Regions from separate parts of the Homo sapiens genome. Here region 1 is linked to region 2. Evidence: fine-mapped expression QTL. Tissue or cell type: prefrontal cortex. Region 2 holds a variant in brackets; the other region holds the start of a gene. All regions are shown on one strand. Distances are from middle to middle.

What was found. PIP is the estimated chance that this variant, and not a neighbour inherited with it, causes the effect.
Region 1: C4orf33 starts here. The variant in region 2 is fine-mapped to the expression of C4orf33 in prefrontal cortex (BrainSeq, PIP 0.91).

The regions. Positions count from the first base shown.
Region 1 is chr4:129,093,941-129,099,322 of GRCh38, reverse strand. It overlaps C4orf33 (chromosome 4 open reading frame 33), which reads right to left and starts at 3,171. Exons shown (of 6, transcript NM_001099783.2): 1 at 3,114-3,171.
Region 2 is chr4:129,009,505-129,014,886 of GRCh38, reverse strand. All of the region lies in intron 5 of SCLT1 (sodium channel and clathrin linker 1), which reads left to right. Among named protein-coding and RNA genes, the nearest start is that of SCLT1, 81 kb to the left of the region's middle. The variant AAAAC/C (reference allele first, on the strand shown) is at 2,874.

The DNA.
Region 1 (5,382 bases), 84 kb before region 2:
CCATACCAGGTGCTGGGGAAATAATATATAATAAGTCTACAGGAGTTTGGGATGGTTCTCATGTAACTAATCAATGAGGTACCCGTTTCCAACATCAGTTGGTTCATTTTGCAGTCCAATTTAATTCAGTGGGATCCTTATACCAAAGTAAGTTTTAGATGAATCAAAGATTTAAACATAAAAATCAAAATCATATAAAAACAGGAAATAAAAAGAGAGTTAAATAAAATCTTATAGTAGTAAGGTAGGAGATGAGCTGGGCTTGTTTTCTGAGCACCAAGGTCCCACTGATTGAAACAGAATCTTATCAAAACAAGATGCAGCAAAGAAACTGGCCACAACCAGCTAAAACCAAGATGGCAACAAAAGTGATCTCTAGTTGCCCTCACTGCTCATTATACATTAATTATAATGCAGTAGCATGCAAAAAAAAACTCCCAACAGTGGCATGACAGTTTACAAATGCCATGGCAACTCCTAGAAGTTACCTTATATGGTTTAAAAAAGGGAGGAACTCTCAGTTCTGGGAACCCTTCCTACTTTTCTGGAAAATGCATGAATAACCCACCCCTTATTTAGCATATAACCAGGGAATTGTATGTATACAGCTGGCCAACAATTCATGGGAGCTGCTGCTCCTACTCTGTCTATGGAGCAGCCATTTTCCTGTAGTTTGTTGCTCTGATAAACTTGCTTTAGCTTGTGAATCCTTTCCTGCATGAAGCCAAGAACTCTCCTGGGCTGAGCCCCAAATCTGGGCTTTCCCTGCATTAGTAGAGAAAACCTTTTAAAATACAAACCAAAACCCAAACATTTTACTACATAAATATAGCAAAACTAACATGGATGCAGCTGGAGGCTATTATTCTAAGCAAATTCATGAAAGTACAGAAAACCAAATACCACATATTTTCACTTATAAGTGGAAATTAAACAGTAGGTACTCATGGACATAAAGATGGCAACAACAGACACTGGGGACTACTAGAGGGGGGAGGGAAGAAAGGGGCAAGGGTTGAAAAACTAACTACTGGGTACTATGCTCACTACCCAGGTGATAGGATCATTCGTACCTCAAATCTCAGCATCATGCAATATAACCATGTGACAAACCCGCACATATATACCCTGGATCTAAAATAAAAGTTGAATTTTTTTAATAATAGATAAATAATAGTAAAAAAGCAAAAACCTCCTTCCCAAGTTCCCTTTACTCCAAAAGCCTATCATTAACAAAATCAAAAGTCTGGGGAAAAGTATATGCAATTCATACTTGATACAAATAACTAATTTCTTTAATGCACAAAGAGCTCCTAGAAATCAATAAGGAAAAGACCAACACTCCAACAGAAAAGTGACCAAAAATTATGAACAGCCAGTTCACGGAGAGAAAATGCAAAATGTTCACTTATAATGACAGAAATGCAAACTAAAACCACAATAAATTACCATTTTTCACTTAGATTGGCAAGGATCAGAAAGTCTGACAACAAGCTGTGTTAATGAAGGCATTGAGAAAAAAATCATTTATTGCTAGTGAGGCATAATTGATATAGCCTCTGTGAAGAGCAATACGTCAATATCTATCAAAATAAAAATGCAACTATCCTTTGACAAAAATAAGTCTAGTTCTAGGAGTTACTATACCTGCACATATTCAAAATGACATAAGCGTTGAGGATATTTGTGGTAGCATTGTTCATAATAACAAAATGTTGGAAGCAACTTAAATACCCATCAGTAGAGGACTGGTAAAAAAAATTATGCTATACCATACAATGAAACACTGTATAACTGCTAAAATGAATGAGGCAGCTCTGAATTAACATCTATGCTAAAATATGTTGTGAAGTGAAAAAAAGCAAGGTGCATTTATTTAATAAAAAGGAAGCTTATTTGCATATATGCTTGTGAGGCATACACTATCTCAGGAAACATCCAAGAAACGAGTGGTAACAGTGGTTGCTTCCCTGAAGGGAATTATCTGCCTGCAGATATGGGAAGGAGGAAGGCTTCCTTTCAACTTCATCACTTTTTAAAAACCTATCTGCATTTTACACTATGACAGACATGCATTACTATTTTAAGGTAACTGAACAGTTTAAAATTATTTTTTGGCCGGGCGCGGTGGCTCACACCTGTAATCCCAGCACTTTGGGAGGCCAAGGCAGGCGGATCACAAGGTCAGGAGATCGAGACCATCCTGGCGAACATGGTGAAACCCCGTCTCTACTAAAAATACAAAAATTAGCTGGGCGTGGTGGCACGCGCCTGTAGTTCCAGCTACTCGGGAGGTTGAGGCAGAAGAATCGCTTGAACCCGGAGGCGGAGGTTGCAGTGAGCAGAGATCGCTCCACTGCACTCCAGCCTGGCAACAGAGCAAGACTCCGTCTCAAAAAAATATATATATTTTAAGTCTAATTTAAGGCCGGTTCTCTTAAAAAGAGTATGGTGGCTGCCTCTTCTCCCCTTTATATTATATATGCTGAACGTTTCCGAAAAGTCATAATGCATATTATCAAGATGATTACTGTCCTGCAATGCAATTTTAAGTTTGGCTGTTTAGACTTTCTTAATACAATATTTATTGTTACTCTGTATGTTTCTACTTTTAACCTCTATTCTTCAAATTGCTCTTAAAACAAGTTAAAAAAATAAATTTTCAATTGTTCTGATTGCTTTATCTTTACCTGGAAAGACCTCTAAAAGGAAACGAAGGAAGAGAAAGGAGACCGAACACTGGAGCATTAAGAACCCAGGAAAAGAAAAAATGTCCGCAAAGTTTAAAAGAAATAAGTTATGGTAAAGGTGTTTTCTCAACCAAATGATCTGCAAGGAAAATTTCCAAATTCCTCTGCTCAACAAAAATTTCTTTAGTTTTTCTACAATAATGATTTCTTTTCAGTTTCCATACCTCCCCGAGGCCCCGCCCATTTATCAGGGAAACGGAGAAATGAGGAAGTCAGCCTGAAAGGGGGAGTACGCTCACTTAGCAGGAGACAGCTGAAAAGTAAAATACTTTTCAGTATTTTCCAGAGATCAAGCGAAAAACAAGACCTGGCGACGACGAAAGGAATGTCAGAGAGAAGAGGGAACAACTAGAGAACACAGACCACGAAGCTTTTCTCAAACACTGGCTTCTTCTTTTCAGCCGAGGTCACAGGAGAGGGCTCGGCTTTAGGCTCCACCCAGCTGCCTACACGTTCTGGGGGAGGGGCTTAGAACACTGAAGCTAAGACGCTTGATTTTTCTAGGAAAGAAAGATGTTGAAGGGCCACACATGAACAACTGAAGACTTCTAATCGTTCCACTAAAGTATGAGTGGTTTCCTAGAAGAAGGAAGGGTGATTCAGAAATATAAATACTGTGCAATAATTTGAAAATCAACTGTAAATCATTAAGATTACAATATAACATGTACAGAAATATTTCATTTAATACAACTAAAGGCTAACTGGCCATATAAGCAAAAACTATAAATTATATTATACCAGCTATAAACTATATTATACTATATTCCTGGGGAGGCATGTTCATAGCAGTTAACAATTGTGAAATTAGAACCATACTGCCTGGGTTCAAATCTCAACTCAGGCACTTGCCAGCTGTGTGATCTGTTCTGATCCTTGCTTAAACTTCTAACTTTGTATTCTTCCTGGTACTTTGCACATAGTACTGGGTGCTCAATGTCAATTGATCAACCAAATGAATGTTAGTGAAATGTCACTAATTTTCAATCTATACAACTTTAGGGGTTTTCTTTATTGCAGAAAAGTCATATAAAAACATTAAATGGTGGCTTGACAAGAGTTACACACAAACTACATACATTTCTGCTTGTCATTCCTTGTATTCAATTTATACTAATAGATACTTTTCATGAACATCCACTGAATTCTTTCATTCCTTCCATCAGATATTTAATCAACTCTGTGTTCCAGGTATTATGATGGAGCCTGGAGACAAACTACAAAACATGACAGATAATGCAGGAAGGAGCATGAAGTAAGTACTAAGGTGGCACCTACCTTGGGAGAAGTGGATAAAGAACTCAGGAGATGTGAAAAGGAGGAACATGAGAGGGGATCCTTTAAGGATAAGTGAAATCATCACAATTTTGTTTCCTAATGATGAAACTTATGTTGAAAATACTCCATTAAAATTCAACTACTAAAATCTTGTAACCACAAACACAAACGCAAAAACAAAAAACTATCATGATCATAATTATGATCATGTAAGCTAAAAAATTCGAGTGCAGACATAAAAGTTTTCACCTGAGATATTCACTTTATGTAAATACCACTCATCAGTTATAGCCAGAAGGTATTTGCTTCCATCCAGTTTGGGTGTAAGCGTAGAGTTAAGTCTATAATTATTTATTTGATGCCAAGTAGAAATACGACAATATACAAGGTTCAAATGTGGGAGAAGTTACAAGCAAGTCCTTGGAGAGTCAGTGAGATGTTTATGAAGAAAGAGTCATATACTGAACTTCAAAAACGAGTTGGACCTTGCACACTCAATTTTCCCTTAGCTATAACGTTTATACAAAAAGTTTTTGTGTAAACGTTATAGCTACTAAAAATCAGAACAAGTTCAATTATCACCAACTCAAAGCTGGATTAGACCTTTTCAATGATTATTAAGCTACACATCCATATTTAACAGCTAGTCTTTAGAGGAAGGGACCATCTCATTCTATTAACAGTGAGTATTGAGTAAGGCCTTCAGATGCCTAACTGCATATATTTGAATACATTTTTAAAATTTCTTAACACATATCGCTAAGGTTACTTTGTTTATATGACATTATGAGTACGGGACAACAAAACTCTTAAGCCGTTAAACAGAAAGCCAAATCAAGCTGCATCTATGACATGCCTGTTTAGTGAAACTTTACTTCAGTCCATAAAAATACAATTTATTAAAAGCACAAAACTAGTGGCTAGCTTCAAGTTAACATTTTTGTTGCTAGTGGTGAGATTTCCTCTAATGTTAAATGATTTTTTTTAAAAAAATACGTTTTAAGTCCAGACAAAATTAATTTTCAAAAATGAAAATTGTAATCTATCCACAAATGTAAGTTTTACCGTTTTGTTTTTTGCAAAAAAAAGTACCTTTTATCTTTCCTTATATTTGAGGAAACAAGCTTATCTTTGAAGAAGTAGCTGCTGAATTTGCAAGATCTTTTGAGTACTTCTAACTACACGCTTTATTACTACACAGTTAAATATTTAAACAACAGTTGTCTCCTTTGTCTAAAGACCCACAAAGACCGAGAAGGTACTTACCTTCTTGAGATGACCAAATCCAAACCTAGAACTCCTCCAGAGGTACAGCCTTGGTGGGAGATTCTGAAGACGCCAGTCTGGCTTCTAT
Region 2 (5,382 bases):
AGTTGCCTCTGCCACTGTGGTTAATTCCCACAGGGAGGCAGGCACCCCAGCAGCCACTAGCACTCTGCCACAGCTGCTGCTACTGCTATTGCTGGCACATGTGAATGAGGACAGATCCCTCTGTCACTGCACTATGAAACACTTTGGCTGACACTACACATTGGAATGTAGTGACCAGTGGTCCAGAAGCACCTGGTGCTCGCAGCACAGTGGATTTCTAACCTCATGGAGTGAGAGAACAATGTCAGGGCCCAATACAAATCCCCAGGGTTAGAGCATACAGTCCAGAAGTCAGGAGCTGAGCATTGGTCCCCTAATGTCTTTCAGAAATGAAGCCAGTCAGCTAAATCTACCCTATATGATAATCAAACCCTCAAGGTCATCAAATAGGATAAAAGAGAACAAAAGCCTCGAAAGGTCAGCAGCCTCAAAGATTGAAGGTGGATAAACCCACAAAGATGAGAAAGAATCAGTGCAAGAATCCTGACAACTCAAAAAGCCACAGTGCCTTTTTTCCTCTAATCTACCCCATTGCCTATACAGAAAGGGTTCAGAACTGGACTAAGATGGCTACAAATGACAGAAATAGAAATCAGAATATGCATGAAACGAAGATCATTGAGCTACAGGAGTATGTTGAAACCCATCCAAGGAAGCTAAGAACGATGATAAAACAATGCAGGAGCTGCCCAGCAAAAATAGCCAGTATAGAAAAAAACCAACTGACCTGATAGAACTGAAAAAGACACTACAATAATTTTATAATGCAATCACAAGTATTAAAAGCAGAATAGATCAAGTGGAGGAAAGAATCTCAGAGTTTGAAGACTGGATTTCTGAAACAAGACAATCAGACAAGAATAGAAATAAAAGAATGAAAAGGAGTGAACAAAACCTCCAAGAAATATGGGATTATGTAAAGAGACCAAATCTATGACTCATAGGCATCCCTGAAAGACATGGGGAGAAGGGAAGCAACTTGGAAAACACATTTCAGAATACCATCCATTAGAACTTACCCAACCTAGCTTGAGAGGGTAACATTCAAATTCAGGAAATGTAGAGAACCCTAGTTAGATAAGTTAGAAGAAGATCATCCGCAAGACACATAATCATCAGATTTTACAAGGTCAAAATGAAACAAAAAATTTTAAAGACATCTTAGAGAGAAAGATGAGGTCACCTACAAAGGGAAGATCATTAGACTAAGAGCAGACCTCTCAGCAGAAACCCTACAAGCCAGAAGCAATTGGGGGCCAATGGTCAACATTCTCAAAAGAAATTCCAAGCCAGAATTTAATATCCAGCCAAACCAAACTTCATAAGCGAAGGAGAAATAAGATCATTTTCAGGCAAGCAAATGCTGAGGAATTTCATTACTACCAGACCTGCCTTACAAGAGCACCTGAAGGTAGCACTAAATACAGAAAGGAAAGATCATTATCACCCACTACAAAAATACACTGAAGTACACAGACCAGTGACACTGTAAAGCAACCACATAAACAAGTCTGCAAAATAACCAGCTGACACGATGACAGGATCAAATCCATACATATCAATACCAACCTTGAATGTAAATGGGCTAAATGCCTCAATTAAAAGGCACAACCTTAGCAAACTAACGCAGGAACAGAAAACCAAATACCGCGTGTTCTCACTTATAAGTGGGAGCTAAATGGTAAGAACTTACAAGCACAAAGAGGGAAACAACAGACACTGGGATCTACTTGAAAGGAGAGGGTGGGAGGAGGGAGAGGAGCAGAAAAGATAACTACTGGATACTGGGCTTAATACCTGGGTAATGAAATAATATGTACAACAAACCCCTGTGACATCCATTTACCTATGTAACAAACCTTCACATGTACCCCAAAACTAAAATAAAAGTTAAAAAGCAAAAAAAGACACAGAATGGCAAACTGAATAAAGAAGCAAAACCCGTTGGTATGCTGTCTTTAAGAGTCCTATCTCACATGCAGTGACAAACATGGACTCAAAAGGATGGAGGAAGATTTACTAAGCAAATGGAAAACAGAAAAAAAGTAGGGGTTACGATCCTAGTTTCTGACAAAAGCCAAAAAGAGCAAAAAAAAAAAAGAAATGGCATTACATAATGGTAAAAGGTTCAATTCAATTCAACAAGAAGATCTAACTATCCTAAATATATATGTACCCAACACAGGAGCACGCAGATTTGTAAAGCAAGTTTTTAGAGACCTTCAAAGAGACATAGACTCCCATACAATAGTAGTGGAAGTCTTTAACACCACACTGAAAATATTAGACCAATCATCAAGAGAGAAAATTAACAAAGATATTCAGGACCTGAACCCAACAGTGGATCAAATGGACCTGAGAGACATCTATATAACTCTCCATCCAAAAACAACAGAATATACATTCTTCTCATCACCACATGGCACATGTTCTAAAATCAATCACGTAATCAGAAGTAAAACACTCCTCAGCAAATGCAAAAGAACAGAAATCATAACAATCTCTCAAACCACAGCACAAATTAGAAGCCAAAACAGAAATTTGCTCAAAACCATACAATTACATGGAAGTTGAATAACCTACTCCTGAATGACGTTTGGGTAAATAATGAAATTAAGGCAGAAATCAAGTTCTTTGAAACTAATGAGAACAAAGATACAACATACCAGAATCTCTGGGACACAGCTAAGGCAGTGTTAAGAGGGAATTTATAGCACTAAGTGCTCACATCAAAAAGTTAGAAAGATCTCAAGTTAACAACCTAACATCACAACTAAAAGAACTACAGAACCAAGAGCAAACAAATTCCAAAGCTAGCAAAAGACAAGAAATAACCAAAATCAGAGCTGAACTGAGGGAGATTCAGACACAAA[AAAAC/C]ATCCAGAAGATCAAAGAACACAGAAGCTGGTTTTTTGGAAAAATTAATAAAATAGACCATTAGCTAGACTAATAAAGAAGAAAAGAGAGAAGATTCAAATAAACACAATCAGAAATGACAAGGAGATGTTACCACTGACCCCACAGAAATACAAACAACCATCAAATAATATTATGAACACCTCTATGCACATAAACTAGAATATCTAGAAGAAATGGATGAATTTCTAGACACATACACCCTCCTAAGACTAAACCAGGAGGAAATTGAATTACTGAACAGACCAGTAATGAGTTCTGAAATTGAGGCAGTAATAAATAGCCTATGAACCAAAAAAGCCCAGGACCAGATAAGTTCACAGCCAAATTCTACCAAATATACAAAGAGCTGGTACCACTTCTACTGAAACTATTCCAAAAAAAAAATGCTTAGGTATTCCTAAGCAAAAAGAAGAAAGCTGGGGACATCACACTGCCCAACTTCAAACTATACTTCAGGGCTACAGTAACCAAAACAGCATGGTACTGGTACAAAAACAGGCACATAGACCAATGCAACAGACCATAAAACTCATTTTATGAGGCCAACATCATCCTGATACCAAAACCTAACAAAGATACAACAAAAAAGAAAACTTCAGGCCAATATCCCTGATGAACATAGAGACAAAAATCCTCAACAAAATACTGGCAAATGAAATCCAGCAGCACAGCAAAAATCTTATCTACCATGATCAAATAGGCTTTAGCCCTGGGATGCAAGGTTGGTTCATCATATGCAAATCAATAAATGTGATTCATCACATAAACAGAACTAAAGACAAAAACTACATGATTATCTGAAATGAAGCAGAAAAGGCTTTCATTAAAATTTAACATTCTTCATGTCAAAAAGTCTCAATAAGCTAGGTATTGAAGGAACATACTTCAAAATAGTAAGAGTCATCTATGAAAAACTCACAGCCAGCATCATATGGAATGTGCAAAACCTGGAAACATTCTTCCTGAAAACTGGCACAAGACAAGGATGCCCTTTCTCGCCACTCCTATTTGACATAGTATTGGAAGTCCTGGCCAGGGCAGTCAGGCAAGAGGAAGAAATGTAATCCAAATAGGAAGAGAGGAAGTCAAACTATCCGTATTTGCAGATGGCAGGATTCTATATCTATAAAACTTCATAGTCTTGGCATAAAAGCTTCTTAAACTGACAAACAACTTCAGCAAATTCTCAGGATACAAAATCAATGTGTAAAAATTACTAGCACTCCTGTACACAAAAAAACAGTCAAGCCAAGAGCCAAATGAGTAACGCAATCCCATTCCCAGTTGTAATAAATAAATAAACACACAAACTACCTAGGAATACAGCTAACTAGGAAGGTGAAAGATCTCTCTACAAGAAGCACAAAATACTGCTCAAAGAAATCAAAGATTACACAAACAAATGAAAAAATGTTCCATGCTCATGGATAGAAAGCATCAATATTGTAAAAATGGTCATACTGCCCAGAGCAATTTATACATCTAATGCTATTCCTATTAAACTACCATTGAGATTCTTCACAGAACTAGAAAAAACTATTTTAAAATTCATGTGGAACGAAAAAAGAGTCCAGATAGCCAAGGTAATCCTAAGCAAAAATAAGAAAGCTGGAGACATCATGCTGCCTGACTTCAAACTATACTGCAGGGCTACAGTAACCAAAACAGCATGCTACTGGTACAAAAACGGGCACATAGACCATTGCAACAGAATAGAGAACCCAGAAATAAAGCCACACACCTACAACTATCTGATTCTCGACAAACCTAACTCAAGCAATGGGGAAAGGACTCCTATTCAATAAATGGTGCTGAGATAACTGGCTAGCCATGTGCAGAAGATTAACAAACATTAACTTAAGATGGATTAAAAACTTAAATGTAAAACCCCAAAGTATAAAAACCCTGGAAGACAACTTAGGCAATACCATTCTGGACATAGGAGTGGGCAAAGATTTTATTAAGAAGATACCAAAAGCAATTGCAATAAAAGCAAACATTGACAAATGGGATCTAATTAAACTAAAGAGCTCCTGCACAGCAAAAGAAACTATCAACAGAGTGCACAGACAACATACAAAGTGGGGGAACATTTTTGCAAACTGCATCTGACAAAGGTCAAATATCCAGCATCTATAAGGAACTTAAATTTACAATAAAAATCAAACCTTATTGAAAAATGGGCAAAGCACTTGAACACCTTTCAAAAGAAGACATACATGTGGCCAATAACCATATGAAAAAAAGCTCAACTTAATTAGAGAAATGCAAATCAAAACCACAATGAGATACCATCTCACGCCAGTCAGAATGGCTGTTAAAACATCAAAAAATAACAGATGCTGTTATGGTTGCAGAGAAAAGGGAATGCTTTTACACTGCTGGTAGAAACAGAAACTAGTTCAGCCACTAGTGGAAAGCAGTTTGGATTCTTTTTTTTTTTTTTTTCTTTTTGAGACAGAG